Linked DNA regions of Homo sapiens: region 2 is linked to region 1. The links come from fine-mapping of genetic effects on gene expression. A gene starts in region 1. The other region holds a variant in brackets. All regions are shown on one strand. Distances are between the middles of the regions.

Region 1 (11,504 bases):
ACACATTCTTTAATATTCAGAAATAGGTTTCATTTTTAGAATATATGCACAATACATTTTAAAGGAATAATTTATTCCAAGATGAATTATTTGGCTCCAACATAAAACTGAGCAATGGTTAGTTGTTTACAGAAATTTGAAGAATTTTTTTGCTGCAATAAATGAGAACATCAACCATAATCAAAGATGGCAGATATTTAAACTATTTTATTTAAACTGGAAAAAGATATACATATTTCTTGGATAATAAATAGTCATTTAATTATGTTTTTTCAAAATAAGCACAGGTTTTTTTAAAAAGCAAATTCAACCAGCAAAATAAAACATTTATTTTGCAACTGTCCTTTTTTTCCTACTTAATAAAATATTGAAAAAGAATGAGTCCCTTTAAATTCTTCAGTAACTTGTACATTTAGAATGAGCTGGTCCAAAAAAAAGAAGCTGTATTTATTATACAAATGCAGGAAAAGCTACTGCTAAAACCTGCATCACCACCATAAGAAGTCTTGGCTTCTTGGTGAAGTCAAGGTGGTCTCTACTAAGCTGAGACTACTGCCTTAGTTCACTGCCTTCTCTTTTAAAACCTAATCATCACCTAATACAACATTTTTGAATGGTCCTTAAGTTTAATGTAGATGGGATTGTGAAGCACTGATTGTAAATTTCTATAGCATATCATTTTATTAGCATTTAAGGACCGATGCTTAGTATAAGGTATTAAAAAAATACCAAGGAAGTAAATTTAACAACAGGTCATAACAAGCCATATACTATTTATATAGCACTCCCCTTTTTAAAAAACAATATCCTTCCCCACTTAATTACAAACATAATGCTTTTCTTAAGCGGTCATAACAGTAAATGTTTTCAAATGGTATGTGATTCACCATACCGCCTATGTCAACTAAACTAAAATGACTTAAAATATTTAAAAATCGTTAACTTACACAAAACTCTATCCTGATACCAACAGAAATGTTATCCTTTCTATTCAAATTTATCCATAAGGAATGTTTCATCAGTATTATCTCTAAATAACTATCTTTAAATATAACAATGCATAGACTAATCTTGCAAACAGCCAAAAGACACATTTATAGAGGCTGTTAACATTTTAAGCCTGCAATGGTGCAAACAGTGCTCTACATATAGTAATACTAATAAAAAATAAAAGTATAATAACTAGCAACAAGTCCTCATTCTTATGAAGTGGTGTACTAGGAGGCTTGGGAAACTCACTTAGAGAAGGGAAATAATTATACCAAGTATTTCATCCCCTTTGCCTGACATACTTTAAAATCTAGGGCTAGGCATTAGAGAAAGAAACCTGCTGCCCCCAGCATTCTTCTGAATGTAATATGGGGGAGGGAGGAAGCAATGACTAGGGAGTCTCAAGGACTTTCAATTCTGCTATTACTCTGCTCTAACTAGTATGACTCCTATGTATCTCTTTCCTGTGCTTCAGTATTTCATAGATAAAGAACATCCTTTCCAAGTAATAGGGACCCACACACATTTAACCTGTTCTACTTCATCTTCTTCATAATTTTGACATTTTCTCAATGCTAATTTGAAAAAGGGGCTATTGGAAGGTGAGGATAGGTTTTGGTTTTTTTGGAGGACGAACTCTCGTTTTGTCACCCAGACTGAAATGCAGCGGTTGATCACATGGTTCACTGTAGCCTCGACCTCCCAGGCCCAATCCTCCTGCCTCAGCTGGCAGTAGTAGCTGGGATCACAGGTGTGTACCACCACACCTGGCTAATTTTTTTTTTTTTTTTTGGTAGACATGGCGTCTCCCTATGTGGCCCTGGCTCGTCTTTAATTCCTGGGCTCAAGTGATCCTCCCGCCTCAGCTTCCTAAAGTGCTGGGATCACGGGCATGGGCCACCACATCTGGTCTATAACGTAGGTTTTGAAGTCAGGCTGGGTTTGAATGTCACCTCTGCTACTAGCTAAGTGGCTTCCACAGGTTATTTAATCTATCTGCACTTCAGTGTTTGCCATCCATAATATGGGAATATATGCCATCACCTTTGCTGTGTTGTTGTAATAATTAACCAGTACATCATGTGCCTAGCATATATGTGCTAAAAAAGTACTAGTCCTTAAAACGATGCTCTATAAATCTGGGACATAATGGTAACCAGAGCTGGCTAAGGTATATATGTGTGTGAATATAAGAATAGTTTCCAGCTAAATAAAGTAAATAACATGGTAGAAGTGATGCTCTCACCATTGCATTTTTCTTTGCCGCTTGTCTTTTTAATCTTCTTCCTTCCCGTCGACTGTCTTTCTTTAAAGCAACTGCAATTTCTTCCCTTACTTCCTCACTGTCTGTTGCTATAATTTGCCCATTGTGAACCATCTGTGAATTCTGTCTTAGGTATTCCATGAATCCATTCACATCTTCATTTAAGTACTCTTTTTTCTTTTTGTTCTTTTTATGTTTTGCTTGGGGTGCATCATTTTTGAGGGATAGCCTATTGGCTTCAAGTTGTTTACGCTTTGGTAGGTTTTGGCTTGTTCCCTCAAAGGATCCCTTCTTCATGTCCTCCCATGATGTTGCAGGCAAGGGTCTCTTGTTATATGTGGTACTAACTCGGGCCCACCTGGTCATAATTTCATCAGTGGTACCTTATCAATTTTTAAGACAAGCATGGGTGGTTAGCCATCAACAACAAAAACAACAAAACTAAAGAGACATGCTATATCACTATATGTCACATATGCCCATATGTTAAACTTTTAATTATTAAAACACTTTTTATTTCAGTTAGATATCTGTATACATATTTAATGCTATAATATGCTGCATAGACATGCTTCTAACATAAATCTACCACTTACCAGAAAAGCTGCCACACCAGTTAAAAAAGGTGTGCTTAAAATTGAAAAACTATCTTAAGAAACCAAATTATTTCATAAAATATAAATCAGATAGTAATACAATGAATGCAATTATTCCTCCCACATTCTGCAGTTTTCCCGGCTGTTTATTTTCCTATCTCCAAGTCCCACAGCTACTTTCTCCCAATCTTCTTGCTTCGTCTGCCATTTCAATGCAACAATTTGCATAGCAGATTACTAAGTATACAGAAATCATGTCCTTTAATATGAAGTTTGTTGAAATTTCCTGGCAAAGTTATAAGTAAAACATATAAAAGTGTTTACCATCACAGGATGATCCCGGGCTTCCTCTTACTAATCAAGGTATAAGCTACTTCCAGCCCAGTGATTTCACATCATCTTCAATTCTATTTAAATTATGACTTGAATCATAAGATATATTTCACACCAAAATCTGTATCTTGTTTTTATACTCTTAATACATATGCTTTAATATTCAGAAATAACTTTTCATTTTAGAGCACATACATAAAGAAGTAATTTATCCTAACACTAATGATTTGGCTCCAACATAAAATGGAAAAAAGTTTTGGTCACTTACATACTACCTAGTGATTTGGAGGATATTTTTTTCCTGCAATGAATGAGAACATTCAGCCATAATCAAAGATTCATCAGCTAGTCACATGCTACATAACATTTAGGTCAACAGCGACTGCACACATGATACTGGTCTCAGATGATTATAATGGAGCTGAAAAATTCCTATTGACTTTGTAGCCCTCATAACTTGTAGTGTAACACATTACTCATGTCTGTGGTAATGCTGGTGTAAACAAACCTGGGATGCCAGTCATATACAAGCATAATGCTTACAATGATGTACTGTACATAATACTAGACAATTATAAGTATTCCAGAAAAAAGCAGTTATTATAGGAGATGACAGCTCCATTCATGTTACTGCCCCTGAAAACCTTCCAGTAGGACAAGATGTGGAGGAAGAAAAGAGTGATATTGATGCTCCTGACCCGGTGTAGGCACAATGTGTGTGTCTTAGTTTATAACAACAAAAAAAATTTTTACAGGAAAAAGCTATAGAATAATGTAAGGGAATAAAGAAAATATTTTTATATAGCTATACAACACATTAGCATTTTAAGCTAAGTGTTATTACAAAAGAGTGGGCCGGGTATGGTGGCTCACGCCTGTAATCCCAGCACTTTGGGAGGCCAAGGCCAGGTGGATCACAAGGTCAGGATATCGAGACCATCCTGGCCAACATGGTCAAACCCCATCTCTACTAAAAATACAAAAATTAGCTGGGCGTGGTGGCGCACTCTTGTAGTCCCAGCTACAGGCGCGCACCACCTGGGAAGCTGAGGCAGGAGAATCGCTTGAACTCAAGAGGTGGACGTTGCAGTGAGCTGAGATTGCGCCACTGCACTCCAGCCTGGGTGACAAGAGCAAAACTCTGTCTCAAAAATGAGAGACAGAGAGAATAAACTCCGTCTCAAAAAAAAAAAAAAAAGGTCAAGGAGTTAAAATTAATTTAAAAGTTTATAAAGTTAAAAAAGCACAGTAAGCTAAGGTTATTACCTTATTTTTAATAAACTTAGACTAAGCATACCGCATTTATAAAGTCTACAGTAGTGTACAGTAATACCCTAAATAATATCGTAGGCCTTCACACTCACATACCACTCACTGACTCACTTAATAGCTACCGACAGCCCTGCAAGCTCCATGCGTAAGTGCCCTATTCAGCTGTACCATGTTTTCTTTTACACTATATTTTTACAGTATCTTTTCTGTGTTTAGATACACACCATCCTTTTACAACTGCCTACAGTATTTAGTAGTTATACTGTACAGGTCTGTAGACTAGGAGTAACAGGCTATCCCATACGGCCCAGCTGTGTAGGTTTGTGCAAGTACACTATGATGTTCACACAACCACGAAACGGCCCAACCATTTCTCATAACTATACCAGTTCTTAAGGGGAGCATGGCTGTATTAAGCCACCACCTTTTTTGTTGTTGTTGTGGTCGTTGTTGAGACGGAGTCTCACTCTGTAGCCCAACCTGGAGTGCAGTGGGCGATCTTGGCTCACTGCAACCTCTGCCGCCAGGGCTCAAGCGATTCTCGGGCCTCAGCCTCCCGAATAGCTGGGATTACAGGCGCGTGCCACCACGCCCAGCTAATTTTTTGTATTTTAGTAGAGAAGGGGTTTCACCATGTTGCCCAGGGTGGTCTCGAACTCCTGAGCTCAGGAGATCTGCCCGCCTCGACCTCCCAAAGTGCTGGGATTACAGGCGTGAGCCACCGCGCCCGGCCTAAATTATCACCTTTTAAGACCAGCATCCCTGGCAACCCCCCAAGTCTCAGCTCCTAGTAACAGAAAGACCCCTTCCACAGAAGCTGAAGGGTGGACCCAATGAATTGGTGTGAGAAACTCCATGCCACTTTACCAGCGCACTCTTCGCTGAAGTTTATGCGACTGTCATAGTGGGGACCGAAGCTGTTCAAAAGGAAGTAGATTATCCTTCCCCTACGTACGTGGGAAGGGGGAGGCTCTGGGTTATCAAGAGGGTGAAGTGGGAGAGCCAAGCGGCCCACCCACAGGCGGATTCCAGGGCGGCTGGACGCACAGCCCCCAGCAGCCGGAGCCCAACAGCTGAGGTCGCCGCCCCTAGACAGCCCGCGCTCCAGCCAGCTCAGGGACCCAGCGGCTAAGCCTTCTGTCCTCCCAGCTTCCCACGCAAGTTCCGCCAGGCCAGAGGGAACGAACGACGAGACCCTGCAGCTTTGGTGGCTGAGAACCTCACCTCACCGCGCTACCGCGCAGCTTCTTACCGCGCACGAATCCCCCAGAGCAGCCGAGTTGGCGAGCCGGGGAAGACCGCCCTCCTGCGGTATTGGAGACCGGAAGCACATAGTGCCCGAGAGCGCGTCACTTCCGGCGTCACAGACGGTCTTTACAAGCGACTCGTGGGCGTCAATACTGGGCTGAGTTTGTGGCGCGCTTAGTGATGGGATGGCCCTGTGCAGGACGCCGACACGAAAAGATGAAGAGTTCAATCCGTGCTGTCTGAACTCACAGTGTAGCAGGCGAGATAGACGGGAAGATCGGTAGGGTGGGAGATGCCGGAAAGGCTTCCCGTGAGACTGGATAAGAAATCAAAAATCTGGTGAAATTGCCGGCAAGAGGGAGTTAAGGACATTCCAGGCAGAGGCAAGGTAAAGGCGCGGTGGGAGTGGGTCACTGTGATAAAAGTCTGAAAAGGACATTTGGGGGCTCTCTTGGGTGAGAGGCAGTGCCTCATGTCCCCCCTTCAGTGCTCGTTGAGCATTCAATTAAAATGTTAACACTTTGTAGCCAAACAAGTTCTCTTTTTAAGAGGAAAACCCTGGATTTCCAAACGGCTCATTTTCTGTAGCTTCTTGCAAATGGATACCACCACCAGCTGTGCCTAGTGAAAAAATGCAATTTACCAGGACCACTACTCTCAACAGTTTGCTCAATCCATTTAACCTTTTGAATATTTGTCCACTTCTTTTTATCTCTGTTGGCACCTCCTCCCTTGTCCCATATTGTACCTGTAGTTCTACAACTGGTCTGGGGATTCATTCTGCCCCAACTCCCTGAAATCCATTTTCCGTGTCGTAGGAACGGAACTTTTGAAAATGTAAATCATTACATTTAAAGCAGTACTGCTGTACTGCTTTAAACTCTCCCTTCGCTTCCCATTGTTTTAGGATGAAATTCGAACTCCTTATGAAGTCCCTGCCTACTTCCCTAGCCTCACCTTGCTCAGTCTCTCCTTTGAGCTCCGTGCATAGGATCATTTTTTCAATTTCTCAAATGCCGTGTGTACCTTGCCATCTCCAGGCCTTTACATTTGCTAGTCTCTTTGTATGGTACTCCTTTTCTTCTTCCAGTTACTTTCTACTCACCCTTCAAGGCTTTAAGTATTTTATTCTCAAGAAAGCCTTCCAGCCCCCTACCCCCATACTAGACCAATCCCCTACTGTGTGCTCACGGCAGTCTATACTTTCTTATGACACGGTTCACATTTGTAATTACACAATAATTGTGTAAGTTTATTGTATCCTCATTGCCTGGTACATCCTTGGTGCTCACTGCGTATTTGTTTTTTTGTTTTGTTTTGTTTTGTTTTTTGAGAAGGAGTTTGGCTCTTGTCGCCCAGGCTGGAGTGCAATGGCGCGATCTCGGCTCACTGCAACCTCTGCGTCCCGGGTTCAAGCGATTCTTCTGCCTCAGCCGCCCAAGTAGCTGAGATTACAGGCGCCCGCCACCGCGCCCGGCTAGATTTTGTATTTTTAGTAGTGATGGGATATCGCCATGTTGGCCAGGTTGGTCTCAAACTCCTGAGTTAGGCGATCCGCCCACCTCTTCCCTCCAAAGTGCTGGGATTACAGGCGTGAGCCACCGCGCCTGGCCCTCGTATTTGTTAAGTAAATGAAGAATAAGTACTTTGCGATGTTTGTTTAAAGCAAACTAGAAAGTGGCCCAGTTTTCTTTAAGAGAAGGGATTTTAAAGTCAGTGCTTGTAGGAATGTTGAGATTTGGTATGGTACATATCACAAATACCGTAGTTCATATGGTGGAGAAAGTTTTAAAAGACAACAAACAAACAACAGCAACTTCCAGCTCTTGAAGATAGGGAACTTCCTAAAAGATGTGTGGTAGTGCTGCCCATACTGTAATGATCTCAACCAGCTGGTTTCAGGGTAGTGACATTTCATGAAGAGGTTTTATCTTTGGTAGATGCAAGGTACTTACACATAACATACCACTAGAGGGCGCATTTAACTAAAACTTTTCTTTTTAGTGGTATATTGCATTTTAAACTGTAGGTCGTTCATTCTTGGAAGCAAAGGAACATACCGATTTCTTTTTGTAGCGGTATGTCCAATAAAGATTAGTAGTTGAGCAAATAGGGCGTAGAATAAGTCCTTTGGAATTCGGAGGAAACTATTGCTACTAATAGCTAACTTTACTGAACATTTTATAGGTGCCAGCAGTATGCTTAATGGTTTGCATTCGTTACCTAATTAGTCCACTCAGTATTCTGTGAGGTTGGTACTATTATTTTCTCCATTTTGCAATGAGGGAATAAATTCACAGAGCTGACGTAACTTATCCAAGGTCAGACAGCTAATAAGAGGTAGAGTCAGGATTTGAACCAAGATCTCAATCCAAACCTGTGTGCTCTGCTACTTTGAAATACTGCAGAGGATTGTTTGTCTACTTGATCCACTTTAAAACACTTTACTAAGTTATCCTTGCCCAAATTCGATTTTTTTTTTTTGGAAAGTATTTACTTTTACAGTTCAAGGGATTATGTTTGTATTCAGTTTTCCCATCTACTTATTGAAATACTGTAAATGTATTTTTTATAACAATATTATCAGGAAGGTAAATGTTAAATAAGGAATTCTGGTCGTCTTCTCAATTTTCCTGCTGCTGTTTCTTTTCCAGTCCTCAAATTGCTGATTTATAGCTTGATTCACTGGCAGAGACAGTGGAGTGTGCTTATTCCATATTACCAGGAATTGAAACCACTACCATTAGAATTTTAAATCTTCATTCTTGCCCAGATTCTCTCTGAATATTAGGCGCTTGGCCACCCTAGATGAAGTGACCAATAGGTGATGAGGACTAGAAGTGTCCAAGGCCCAGCCTGGGTGGACCATCCCTCTAACTGACTCACACATTAGAGTGAACAGCCTCCAGGCAGCCAGTTTACCTATAGAGCAATTTGGAACGGAGAACAGTGAATCTGGAAAGGAAGGCTGGGATGAGATTTTGCCAAATTAAAGTGTTTTTAAATGTGAAATTATAGTGTTCAAACTTTATCCATTAGAGCTTAAGCAATGAACAACTGTGGATAGTGTTTTAGATCATACAGGAGATCCCATAAAATAGATCTGGAGAAGAGGATTGTGTGGAAAACTGTACCTAATGCATTCTCCGGGCAGTTATTGAACTTTTTTATAGTATGCAGAAAAATACAGCAGAAGAGAGAGGAAAAAAATTAATGACCCTGCTGTTGGAAATAAAAATAAGATCCAGACCAGTGACATTCTGACATCTTAAAAACCTGTCAGTGATATTTTTAGCTGCTTTAGGATCCTTACAATAAGGCCCATGAGTAATAGGATTGTGAGGGTTTTTTTCTTTATACATAATTTTACAGATATTCTTTAATGGGTGTGTATTACATTTAGAATCATTATTAAAGAGTTATTTTTAATCCATGGGAGTTTTGACACAGCACATGAGAATTTCTAATTATAGACTCATAGAAATACATACCTCTTAAAACCCTATCTTCTTGTTTTACAGATCAATAAATTAAGTTTCAGAGAAGTTAAGTGATTGCCATAGAACACAATGCTAGTGACTGAATTTTGTTAACTAACATGCTTTCATTTGCATTGTTGGTTTTCTCAGTAACAAAATTACAAGCAATACTGCTTTATTTCAGAAGTGAAAGAAAATCTATTGGAAGTGTGGAGCAAGAGAAACCTATTAGTGGAAGTTACTTGAGGTTCCTAGGCAATAAGGAATAGGAATAATATAAAGTTTGTGTTACCCTCTGAAAAAGCTTGAATCTCTTTCATCTTCTTTGCTTAAACGTGATAAAGAATAGTGTTGGAACACTAATCACAAAAATGATGTATCCTTCTGACTCATCTTACCATCTTGTTGTATTTCTCAAATTTGAGTTCCTAATCATGTGTTTCGGTGGTTAGGATGTTAAGTGCTTCAAATGAATACTTAAACCTAAATTACAAACAAGTGGCAAGATTTGCAAGCTCTCCTTTATTCTCTGAAATGCGTACTTCCTCCTCCTTATGTCTGAGGAAATCATACCAGATACGGGCCTTAGACTGTCCATTCCAAGGAACAATGAGAGGTCTTGCAGTTACAAATGGAATTCTGTAAAATAGGATAGGTGAGGAAAAAGCACTTTTTGATGTCTACTATTTGCCAGTACCTTAAGTGCTAAATATATACAAATGACAGAGAGGTCCCTGCCCTTAAGCAGCCAAGAGCCTGTGAGAGTAAGACAGATTGCTAAACCACTAATAAGCTGATGTTATAATTAGTGAGGGAATTATGGTGATATAGAGATTACAGATAAAATATTTCTTCCTGGGAAGTTTTAAGAAAAACTTCACAGTAGAATGTGTTGCAGACAACTGGAGAGAGGGATCAGGGAGGTGAGGAGGAGGAGTCAGTAAAAAATAAATACATGTACTCGATCTAAAATCCTCTCCAATAAGCTGAAATGCTTTTGCAGATAAGACTGACACACGCTGACATATACACAAAAAAGAGATAAAAATTTATGCTAGTACTTCATAAAAGGTCAAAGTGAACATAACCAAGTGGCAAAAATATTTCGTACTGATTTAGTAACTACTATATAAAATAATCTACCAGTAAGTCTGGGTAAAAACAGTACAGTAATTAATGATTTCAGATGAACTAATTTAAGAGGACCACATACGAGGAAAAACATAACCTGCCCAAAACTATGGCATAGCAAATAAATGATCATAGGAAAAGAGGTCCCACAAATATTTAAGAAACATTTATGGACCAAGAAGATGTAGAAAGTCACATTTACATATATTCCGGAAGATGTGAGAGTCTAATGGTGAGCTCTATGAAGATGAATTGGACACAGTTCATACCCCCAGAGGAATCTGGTAAAGAAGACAAACAGGGCCAGGCGCGGTGGCTCACTTCTTTAATCCCAGCACTTTGGGAGGACGAGGCAGGCGGATCACCTGAGGTCAGGAGTTCGAGACCAGCCTGGACAACATGATGAAACCTCGTCTCTAGTAAAAATACAAAAAAAAAAAAAAAAAAAAAAGCCAAGCGTGGAGGCAGGCACCTGTAATCCCAGCTACTCAGGAGGCTGAGGCAGGAGAATCGCTTGAATCTCGGAGGCAGAGGTTGCAGTGAGCTGAGATCGCTCCATTGCACTCTAGCCTGGGTGACAAGAATGAAACTTTGTCTCAAAAAAAAAAAAACAGATTTTAAATTCCTCAAGGAGCAAATGAAGGAAGGCACTTGTGTAGTTTTGCCCAGGGAAGCTTTATATGGAAGTCACCAGCAAGTTTTCAGAGAGGAAGATTAGCTACACTGAGTGTATGTGGCTTTTAGATCTCTAAACAGTATGTCTTGGAGAAGTACAGCAAACCAGATAGAGATATATATATATAATAGATACATATAATTATATATCTATTATATATAACCAATATTATATATAATAATATAGATATATTAATCTATTATATATAGTATATATAAGATATATACTATATATTATAGATATATCTATTATCTTATATATACTATACATAATTAAATATATATTAGATATATAATATATATCTAATATATAATAGATATATATCTATTATATATAATGTATAATATATAATATGTAGATATATCTATTATATATAATATATATTATATGTAGATATATCTATTATATATAATATGTAGATATATCTATTATATATAATATATAATATATGTAGATATATCTATTATATAATATATAATATATATTATATGTAGATATATCTATTAAATATAATA
Region 2 (11,504 bases), 70 kb after region 1:
TGAATATGAGCGGTTGCAATTTGTAACAATGATGTATATATACATATACATTTTCATGTATTTGTATGAACATAAAAGTATTGAAGGATATTCATCAAACTGCTAAAAGGGTTGCTTCAGAGTAACGGACTCGGAGAAGGCAGATTAATTTTCTCTTAATGGAACTCTGTATTGTATCACTTGTAAAAATAAGCATGTGTTATCTTTATGATAAAAAAGTAAAAACCTAAAAAAGAAAATTTTGATGTGTGTTAAAATTTTGGATTTCTAGGCTCCACCTTTTTTGAATGAGTCTCTCCAAGAGTGGGGCCCTCACATGTATAATGAGAAAAAGCTCCCCGATTACAGGATGTTACCAAGCCCCGCTAGGTGTAGGAACCCTGCTTGGTACCCACCCGAGCCTCAGCAGCTCCTCCCCATCATGGGCATGATGAGGTCTCCCTGTGAGGTGTTGTGAAGACGACGGGACAGGCTGCAGTAGGCACTGAATAAATGAGTCCCTTCCCCTGATGACCCTAAGGCTATGGGATCATCATCACTCCCTCCCCAAAGCCACACCTGATTATTCCAGCCAGCACTCGGCCTGCCCCTTTTCTGAATGCTTTTTGATTTTAACTTACATTTTTCGCATTTAAATGTTTCATTTAATTTGAGAAAGAGTCTCGCTCTGTCACCCAGGCTGGAGTGCAGTGGTGCGATCTCAGCTCACTGCAGTCTCCACCTCCTGGGTTCAAGCAATTCTCCTGCCTCAGCCTCCCAAGTAGCTGGGATTACAGGCGCCCACCACCACATGTGGCTAATTTTGTACTTTTAGTAGAGATGGGATTTTGCCATGTTGGCCGGGCTGGTCTCGAACTCCTGACCTCAAGTGATCCACCTGCCTCAGCCTCCCAAAGTGCTGGGATTAGAGGTGTGAACCACCACAGCTGCCTTCTTTTAATTTGTATTTTCTATCTCTGCGGACAAGACTTCAAAGGTGTCTATCACATACTTTCAGATCTACTGATCATCCTCTGAAAACCAACATCGGGGTTCACAAAATGGATTTAACCAATTGGGCTCCCCAGTTCTTCTTCCAGACTCCACCCCTCCAACAGTGTCTCCAATGACTTCCTGGCATCACTGAACAGGTCCTTCACTTTGCCACCTCTGAGCCTTTGCTTGAGTGTTTTCTTTCCCCTGGAATATCCTTTCCAACCCTATACACCGACTGAGTCAAACCTTCTGTCTTCTTTTTGAGCATTTATGAGCTCCTATCATGAGCCATGCATTATGTAAGGGACCTTACAAACACAATCAGTCTATGTAACAATCCTGCCAAGTATGCTTTATTTTGGGCATGGGGAAACAGAGGCTCAAGAGAAGTGACCTGCCCCAGGTTTCAGTGCCAGCACACTAGTAGAGCTGGGATTTGAACCCAGGTTTGTCTTTTGCACTGGATTCAGCTTCCTTGCAGACCGCAGCACCTCACATACAGCCCTTCACTGACCAGCAATTGGAGGGAAACCACCCCTGTGGCTTAAAACCTGTGGTGCCACAGATCATTCCACTCAGTCAAACCCCCAAGACCGTAGAAGTGCATTTAACACAGCAGCTCCTAGGCACAGGATTGTCACCTCAGGGCATATGACTTCTAAAGTTGCAGATTATAAACTTGTTCTCTTTCCCTGTCCTCAGGCTCCCGCTGAAGTAACCCAGACGCCAGGGATATCTCTGCCCGCTCCACTCTGACTCTAGTGCTCAATGTGCCTGCCAGGCCTTGCTAGGGATGCTGTGCCAGTGTGAAGAGGAAGGTGGTCTCCAGCTCTCACCCCATAGAAGCTTTCTGCCTCAGTTTCCCTAACCTGGAACACCACAATGACTCCTGAATTGAAAAACACTGCTTACAGCATCTAGGCTAAAATTGGCAGAATACCTGGGCTCCAAGCCAGGGAGATTTGGAGCGATGGGGAGGTGCAAGAGCACAGCCAGACAGAGCCAAAAGCAATAATATCCTGTTTGTTCCTACACTGCCCTCCGCATTAAAAAAACAACGACAGCTACATCAAGCCCTTTTGTTAAGTGGCCACAAGCTGTACATTTCTTGGTCCCAGGCAGGTATACTGGGAGTTCAGATCCTGGTCTTAATGCTCTTCTCTGGTTCTGTGACATCCTAGAATGTGAAGAGGAGGCCTTGGGTTCTGTCACTGCCTCCAGCCCGAGCCCCCTGCTCTTCCTGGGCATCCCGGATGGACCATGTCTGCCTTTCTGCTGACTCAGATTTATTTCTGGTCCAGCCATTCACAGCGTCCATGTGTCTGAACTCCTCAGCCAGAGGGCAGGTGGAAGGGCAGGAGGAGGACCACGTGTCAGCTTTCCATCCAGAGAGCCACCCCAAAACAGAGGATGTCCTTGGGCTTGGACCAGCTCCACAGAACACTCTGAACAAATTCTCACGATGCCAGGCTCCTAGGCCGCAGAAAATGCCTGTCTCCTCCCAGTTCTAAGATAGCAAAGGGTGTGCGTTACCTCAAAACCACTTAGTACGCAGCCAACCTTAATGGGCACTCTTGGCATTACTGTTCTACTCAGCAAATAGACAGTCCTAGGCAGGAAGGAGATATTTAGAATCCTACTCTGTAAAACAGAGGCCTTTCCTAGGCCTCCTGTGATGAAGGCATGGGACCGTTACCAGACTTTGTCCCTCAAGGGTAAATTGTTTTCAAGAAAACAGGAAGCTAGGAGCCATCTAGTCCTTTGAAGTGCTGTGAAGTGGGCTGCCTTCTTCCCCGCCCAAGGGAGGGAGTCTCTGAGGCTTCCTGGCAAGGGTTAGTGTGACCTCCAGCAGTCACCTTCAGCATGGGTTGCTGCTGGATTCCTGGCTCTGTGGGCAGGAGCTCCCAGAATGCTTGACACAGACTCTACGTGGCTTCCTTTGGGAAGACAAATGGAGCCTGCTGTAGGCTATGGCAGAGATGGAGGCCCAGGGCCTCTGAGCTAGGGGCAAAGTCAGTCTCCCTCCTGTGTCTGAAACCCCAGGACTCCCCATTCTGTATGGTACTCCCCCCGACCCAACCCACAGTTTCCTTAGGAAAACTGACCTGCCTATGGCCCATTTCCTAATGATATGATTTGGTCATGAGGCTGGCAGAGTCCATGGGGTGCATGTGGCACTCCTGTGCTTTGCTGTGACAGTGCCTTAACCCACAGGCGTGATTAACTCCAAAGTCTGGGGTCTTTGGAAAAGGTGCCTATCAATGCAGAGGAAGTGAAGTGCTCAGACCGCCAAACAAGGCCAAGAGCCTCCCGGAAGAGCCTGCCTGTCAGGAAGTCTCTGGCCACATGCTGTGGCCATGCTCGCCTCTATGAGAGGACAGAGAGAACAGACCAAGGACACGAGTTCAGAACAGAGAAAATGTGAGAGCCGTAGACAGGAAAAGCAGCCCTTCTGGAAACAGCACACTGGTGTACCTAGCGTAACCTTGTCCTGAGGGCCACTAACTGCCCCTCACTTGACTCAGCTGACACTGTGAGGGGTCACGAGCCTGGCAACACTTTCTGGAAGGTCTAAAGGGCAGCACTGAGGAGACCTAAAGGTTTTGGTCTGTTTGTCAAATGTCACTCTTCCTCACATTCGGAGGAGAGCATTTGAAGGCAGACCACTCTAGGGGCAAGAACAGGACTGATTTTAACCCCGGGACAACCAACCAAGCAAGCAAGCTAGTGAAGAACAGGCCTCTGCCCAGGTGAAACACGTGGGGCCAATTCCATAGGTTTTTTTTTTTTTTTTTTTTTTTTTAATTAACCTCCGGTGGGAAAGGTAAGGATGGTGGGGAGGGGAGACGGTTACTTGTCTCATTATCAATGTGTTAGTATTAGTGACGGCAAAACTGAATCTCTAGCAATACTATTTGCCCGTTTAAACTGGGCCTGGCTATTGGGCTTATGAGCAAATAGCTTCTCAAAATTTTAATTTTCTAGTTAGTTCATCCCAAGTCACTGATTTACATGTCTTTTGAGACTGAGACTGCTGGGGAAAAACATTCCCAGAAATGAGTGGATTAGACTCTGTGAATTACAAGGGAAAGACACTTTAAGTTTAAAGTTGTCCCAAACTTAGCGTCAAAATACAGCCTTTAGATTTTTTTTTCCATCGAGAAAAATTCCTGATTCACTACCAAAAAGAGGCCCTGCAGGCAGCGTGCTGATTTGTTCTGCTCCTGGTGCTGAGCTGCCCCCACCTGTGTGCAGGGAGGAGGGGTCGCTTCGGCCAAGGGCGGGAGCTCTGCTGGCTTTAGCGAGTCACCATTGCCTCCTCGCAGTCAGCGTCCTAACGGGGTCCCCGTCTACAGCCCGGCATCCACTCCTCCAAGGCCCTTCACACTGGCTCTAGCCATGACCCCTCTTTGGAGGAATAAAGCAGAGTTTCACGGACTCACCGACCTTGAAGCCGGAGCCTCCCACGTCCTGCTGAGCGCACACAGCCAAGAAGTGTATGCAGGGCGAGCTGGTCGGGCCGGCCTGGAAATCCTCCCTGGCGGGGCGGGGCCAGAGGACCTCACCAATCCCAGCGTAGACCTCCGGGCGCACCGGCCCCCACAGCTGTACCCTTGAAGGCAGGCCCGTGGGCGCTGGGCCCTTTATAGCACCTGCCCTTTCTCTGAAACGTAAAAGGCGGAGCCAGTCTTGCTTCCCAGGCCTGGTCCTGGAGGCTCCTTTGCCAGGGCTCTGGATCTCAGAATGGAAGGGCCAGCAGGTGAAATTGCACATCTGTTGGGGGATTTGTTTCTCTCTTCTCTCAGGTGTACCAGCCTTGGGGCCCTGGTGAGCTCTGGAGGATGAACCCCTCAAGCCAAGGTCGGAGAGGAGGATGTCTCAAGCTGCCTGGCTCCAGCAGCTGACCGGGCCCTGAGCCAGGGGCTGGAGGGACCTCCTTCCAGCGTCTTTGTCTGGGACCTGGATCCAGGGACAATTACAGTCAGGTTTCTGTTCAAGATCAGGCCCCCTGCAGTAGATGGCTAGATCATCTCGCTTTCTGTCCACACCAGCTTAACCCACGGCAGGCCATAGCCCTGCTTAAAAATAGCCCCGCTTGGGATATCCACCGCACGCCGGGAAGGCTGCCTGTAAATAGCAATGACCCAGCAGGATTTTGGACAGCAGCCCTGCCATTTCAAGGGAGCCTGCCTAGGCATCTGGTGACCGTCACGTACTCAGCTTCTGAGGCCACGTGGACATGACCAATTGGTTCCTGTCTCTTCCTTCTCAGAGCCCAGCTCATGCTCAGAGGACTTGATGGAGCAAGGGGTGGAGCCCCAGGAATAACCTTCTACCCAGTGTGGTTCTCCTTCATTCTCTGAAGGAGTTTCCATTTCTTTTAAACACGACCCATGTTTAAAAATATCATCTATTTTACCTTTGCATGGGGTACTGACAGGGAGAGCACGTGAGGGGGCCTTTTGGCGGGATGGGAAGTTTCCTGATTGGGGTGGTTATATAAAGAT[T/G]GGGACCAATCAAATTAATTTCATAATCCTTTAAGGAGTCAAGACCCACCAGCTTGCATATTCTATCATCAGGGCAGTCTCGGTTTATTCCTTCTCAAAATAGCTCTTTTCCACACACACTTGTTTCAAGTCAGTTCAGGCACCAACTGAAATAAATCCATTGACCCTGAAATAGCCCAGCTCCCAGATCCAGAAAATTATAAGGCTTTTAAAGAGCATGGAATTGTAGATTTAAAGAATGGCAGTTATAGCAAAAACCTCCTTTTCCTCCCCAATTGCCTAATCAACATTTAGGGCCCCCTCCACTCACCCGACCTCAACACCTTATATTTTATAGAGTAAATGTTTATGTTAGTAAGGTCAGAAGAAAAATTGGGTCATTGTTGAGAAAAGAGGGTACCACCCTTCTTTTGGGGGACTGGTCCTCTTCAAGCTTATTATAAAGGTGGTGTGATGGGGATGAAATCTCTACAAGGGACTCACAGTAGAAATTCTGGCTTTCTGGAAATCTTTCAAATGCCATCCCTGTCACATGGCATCTATTCCCTTCTCATCGTTACCAACTCCTTTTGAAGCTCTGGGGCTCTAGCCACACCAGGCTGCCCTGTGGCTGGCTTCTGCCATAAGGGCAGGAACAGAATTGAAGTGTGCGACTGCCATATCATTTGCTTTAAAGGAAAATGTCCTGGACTTATTCTCTTTTCTGTTCCTGAGTCCAGCAGGAGTGTGGCTAGAGCAGGCCCCAGATTTGACCTCGAAGGCAAGGATGACGCCTTGTGGGATGAGCAAGTAATAGGATGAAAGGAACCTGGGTTCCTCTGTCGCACCAGCCTGGATTGCTCATTTCAGAATTGGGCAGGAGGGACCCCTTTCCTTAGTCTATTCTTGTGTCCAGCAACTGTAACTTAATTCCATCAGCTCTAAATGTTGCCACAACTTCATAGAAGTTAAAGTATTTTCATATATAGTAATCCATATAACCACTGCAGTTATTTTAGGGGTAGACAGGAGTCTTATTTCAGAAGCCCCTCCTAGGTGGAGCCTGGTGACTATTAGGCCAGGACTCTACCCTGGCGGCTTCTCCTCTCTCCACCACCCATTCAGGAGCGTTGAGCTGCTGTGCAATGGACTGAGCTGTTCCAGGTAGTAGTGAGTTCTCTGTGCCTGGAGGTATCAAATATAGGCTGGGGATGTCACAGGAAGAATCTAAGCACTGCAAAGAAAGTGTGATTAGTTGATCCTTCGTATCATTTCAAAGCTTTCCCCAAATTCTTTGAATTTTAGGGCCTCTTCTAAACTGTTTTTCTCCCTGAACTTTAGAAGTAATATTTAGAAGTAAATAATATATCTGAAGGAGTTCACTGCTATGAAGAAGATGTAAAATAAAAATAAAGCCCCTAGGCCCCCAAGCAAAACAAAACAGACTCATTGTGGTAAAAAGAGACCCCAGGAAACATTAAAAACCAGATTCTACAGCTTTGGCAAGGCAAGAGGTCAGTCACACCCAACGCTCTCCCACCTCGATAACTGCCTCAAGACTTTCTTTCCTAAAATTAAACTAAAACCAGTTACTGAAAAACTATGTCTGGAAGATTTCTTCCTCAACTTCAACAGACAACCTGACGTGGCGAACCCCCCCTTCCCTCAACGCAGTTTCCCCCTGACAAGTGTTCAGCCTTACAAAGCACTCCATCCTCATAACTGACCACAGACCACAGCCGGTTCTGGCCGGTTTACAGAGATTGCACACCAAGCGTCTTTGTGCCCTGTGTTCCATCTTTTGACATATAGAGCCCAATTTTACTACATTTTAAGTCTCCATCCCAAAGTGAACATGGGTTGTATGTAACATGTAACATATATGATTACTGGCTATGCATGCATTAGGGCCTCTCATAAATATTCATAAGATTATCCTATAACCTACTAAATGTATATGTAAGGCTCATCTTGTTGGGCATAAATCTCAGCCTCTCCCTTTTTTATCTGAAGTGCTTGCTTTTGGCTTTGGCCAGAGGCTCCAGCCTGCAGATTGTAACCCTTTATAAGAAATTAAGTTCTATTTTTTCTAAATGTATACATTTCATGGTTTTAAGTTGACAATGTAGAAAAATGGGGGGAAAAAGAGTTAAATGAAGAAACCAGTGAGATTTCTGAATATTCAAGAAAGGTGAAGTTTAATTTGCATATAGGCATAACCTACACCTCACTTGGCAAGTGTTAGGCCACAGCACAAACCCCTCTGTCCAATCACAAATGTCCACAAATTTGCAAAGTAACTGGACACGAACGATATGCTTCTCAAACTCACACACATATTCGTCCATCACACACACACTCAAATGATAAAGAAATACATTGAAATCCTCTACAAAAGAGATCTGAGGACAGTAATCAGATGACCTCATGTGCGGACAGCACTTTGCAGTTTACAGTCTAATCCATTTGGTCCTCACAATAGCCCTGTGAGATAAGCAGCACAGGGATTACTATTCACACCGTTTTGCAGATGAGGAAACTGAGGCTCAGGGATGTGTAAACACCAGCCTAAGGTTTTCCAGTTGGAGACTGGGCCTAGGACTCAGGGCCGGGATGCCTAGGCCAGCTCTCTTTCATAACTGGCTTTCTAGTGAAAAATGAAATGAGCTGTGTAAAAACCAACATCATTAAGTATAATAGAACTATTATTTTCCTTGAGCAGATCAGACTAGTGCTATCAATCCTAATGTTAATGTCATGCTGCATGGCAGCTGAGATGAATAATTTTCTGAATCGTTCATGTGTTTATACCTACAACAAAATGACTGTTTTCCATTTTGGCTCTGCCTCATCTTAATTTTAAGTCACCAATGGCCGCTGAGAAATGACACACTGATTAGATTTCATTGACTTAAGTCTTCTATTACACGGTGGTATCTATAATGGAGCCATTAAACTTACAATCTGATTTCTTACTGAAATGAAAAAGAGTTTTATTTATTGATTCCCTCTGTGCACATTAGCCTGGCTATACCCTTCAGCCATAAATAGTATGTTCTCTTTTATGCCTTTTCGATAGTTGTAAAAATAATACATTTTGCAATTGGATTTTTAAAAACCTTTATACTTTAAAGTGAAGAGATTTTTTTTCAAGGGGATAAAATCAAACTTTGAAAAAAAAAAGCTAAGTAAAATCTCTTGCTTTTAAATAAAAGTTAATTTTATTGGGAATAATCCCTGTATTGCATTACTCTTTTCAGTTAAGAATTTAAAAGCTGCCCAATCGCTGCTGGCCCAAAAGTCTCGTCTTATACAATAACATGAGAGAAAGGGTGCTGATCCATCATTATTCACTCCACATGGGACCATAATGGATTTTTCTCTTCCAGGTGATTCAGTTTCTCTGAGTTTCATTTGTTTATAAGTAGTACTTTAAGACGTACTGAAATTTAACAAACAGTAATGGGACTTGGTATGAGAGCCACTTGAAAATATTGCAATGGCCGTTTAAAATTCCGTCTTTAAATTCCTTCAGAAAAGCACTAAGGAAAAGTGACGACGTTTTACTTCATGCCTGAATCTGTCAAATAATATATTGGATTAGGTAAGAGATTTGTCCCTGTAGCAAAACTAGATGTCTCAGTTAATAACGAAAAGGCATCCCCTAAAAGCTCCAAGATAATTTCGTTGACAGTACAAAATGTGGGCATTCATTCGAAAGCATGAAATTGGATTTTTCTTCTGATTTTCTAGGTTAATTTTACAGTATACATGTTCGCTACTTGGCTGTTAGAGGTTGACCTCCCATCTCCTCTTAGAAATGGGTCTCCATAATGGACTAGAGGCAGATGCAGCTGGGAATGCATGCTTTGTGTGTAGGCAGAAGAGGATGGGTACTTTAACGACCAGAAAAAACACTGCAAATTGCTCTTGGGGATTTTTAATTTGACCAAATTGAAGGGATTTTAAAATGTGCATTCCTCTCCCAGCTGGCACACGAATAGTGCAGGTCATCAACAGACACTCCCTCAGAGGTGGAGCTCTCTCTCTTGCCCTCTTGCAGCTCCAGGAAGGCTGCAGACTCCAGAAAGTGGTGTAATTCTCAAACAAAAATGCGAAAGGCTAGTGAGTGGCACACCCCTGCAGTCCCAGCTGCTTGAGAGGCTGAGGCAGGAAGATTGCTTGAGTCCAGGAGTTCGAGACCAGCCTGGGCAACATGGTGAGACCCTGTTTTTCAAACAAACAAAAACCCCCTAAAAGTCAGCATAGCAATTGACAGTGCCTAATATGACCAGTGCGGGGCAGTTCCAACATCCTGCAGGAAATAGGCGCAAAAGCTTTGTCACTAGTTGAAGAAAAGCTGCGATCCAAAAGGGAAGGAGCATTTGGAAACTCCTGTCTTATTTTTTGTTAATAAGAATGGCTGCAGTGTCTCTGGAACATTTGGGTCAAAGAAATGAGTCCGAACTTCCAGAAAAAGTGCACACAGAACCATCCCTTTCCCTCTGAAGGACTCTGGCAACTCCAAGGCAGAGTAGAATGCATGCACCTTTCCACGTGTTGTTTGGCCCGAAACTAGTATGTGTGTGGTCCTCTCACAGATTTGTCCCGGTTTTAGTTCACCCTTCAGGACTATGCTTTTGAGCCATGAAAGCTAACCTTTACTTTTCTTCTGCAAGACCTTGAGGTGTTTGGTGCAACTGATACATATTATTTCAAACCCTCAGTTTCTGGAGCACTGAGAAATAAATCACAAGTTATGCGTTGTTAGGATCCAAACAGCCCATGCTTCTCATCATGCATCAAGATGCGTCAACCTCTTATTTGAAACTAAAGAGAACAAACAAGCAACTTTAAAAAAGAAAAAGAAAGCATCCATAAGGAACCCTCCTTGGGTTGAGTGCTACACTGTTGGCTAATATGAACTATTGAAAATATTTTGGGAATGGTCTTCAAATATTATATTTTCTTTTACTTAGTTGATATTTCACTATATAGTTACATACAGAGATGGCACTTACCGTGCAGAAAGTGTACATTCTCTACCTCTATGGTGCATTACCAATGCTAGCTCTTTCACTGAGTCTTAAGAGCCAGCAGGTGGAATTTATTAGTCTGTTAGCTCTAGCAACATAATTAAAGTGCAAGGAAAGAGGGAAAGCAGCCAGACAGATCCATTTTTCATTGTCAGCATCAATAAGTTTCATGCTGCTAAGAGAAAATGTCAGGTGCAACAGGTTCAGGGAAATAGAACTATATTTTTTCTCTTCCTTCTTTTAAAGCAGCAGTCTCCCTGAGAAGAGAAGAGGGAGGTAAACAATGAGATAGCCCTATTTCTTCAACAACTGACAATCTTGGGAAAAGGAAGGTCACTTCCCCAGCCTCAGGTAGCAGGACTAACCCTTGCATTTGGTTTTGTAATGTAAGAGCTGTTCGGTGGTTGGGCCCATTTCCCATGCACTTATAATATTCTCAGAGATCTCTCAACATCAGTTTTTAAAGAAAGAGATCTACGAACAGCATATGGAAGTGTGGGTTTTGAAAAGAAAATTTCACTAAACTGTTTAAAAAAAATACAGCCAATGTTCATAGTAAGCCTAAAAAAAGGTCTGTGTAAATGAGAATAGATTCCTGCAGTACTATGAGTGGGGAAAGAAAACAAACAAAGCAAGGTGCAGAGATGATTTTTAGGTATAGATTTTCACTCAGCACTGAAACCCATGATTCCCCACAGCACTTGGTGGCCTTCTGTTCCACAGTTTTGTCGGTGAGATGGGCGTGCACCTTTTTGCAGCTGCCTCTCCAAAAGGGCTGGCTTCTTAGGACCAACAGTCTCAAGGAAAAGCTCCCCACCCACCTCAGCCAGCCACTGTCTGGAATCCTCTGGGGCACAGCCTACTGCATTTAATTAAGGAAATGTTACATACAAATCCATTTGTGTTTCATTCTTTCTTTCCTATCCCATTGCCTAAAGACTGGAAAGGCAGTTTCAGAAGGTACCATTCCTCACATAGAAATATTTAGAATGCACTGACAACCATG

Evidence for each region. PIP is the estimated chance that this variant, and not a neighbour inherited with it, causes the effect.
Region 2: its variant is fine-mapped to the expression of CKMT2-AS1 in minor salivary gland (GTEx, PIP 0.92).

What each region holds. Positions count from the first base shown.
Region 1 is chr5:81,295,874-81,307,377 of GRCh38, reverse strand. CKMT2-AS1 (CKMT2 antisense RNA 1) reads left to right here and starts at 5,809. Exons shown (of 2, transcript NR_034123.1): 1 at 5,809-6,091. It overlaps ZCCHC9 (zinc finger CCHC-type containing 9), which reads right to left and starts at 5,791. Exons shown (of 6, transcript NM_001131035.2): 1 at 5,680-5,791; 2 at 2,237-2,637. The coding sequence starts at 2,620. RefSeq lists enhancers at 4,483-5,272, 5,280-5,459, 5,610-5,709, 5,273-6,062.
Region 2 is chr5:81,226,296-81,237,799 of GRCh38, reverse strand. It overlaps RASGRF2 (Ras protein specific guanine nucleotide releasing factor 2), which reads right to left. Exons shown (of 27, transcript NM_006909.3): 27 at 7,638-11,504. CKMT2 (creatine kinase, mitochondrial 2) reads right to left here and starts at 4,478. Exons shown (of 10, transcript NM_001099735.2): 1 at 4,423-4,478. It overlaps CKMT2-AS1 (CKMT2 antisense RNA 1), which reads left to right. Exons shown (of 2, transcript NR_034123.1): 2 at 1-235. The variant T/G (reference allele first, on the strand shown) is at 5,484.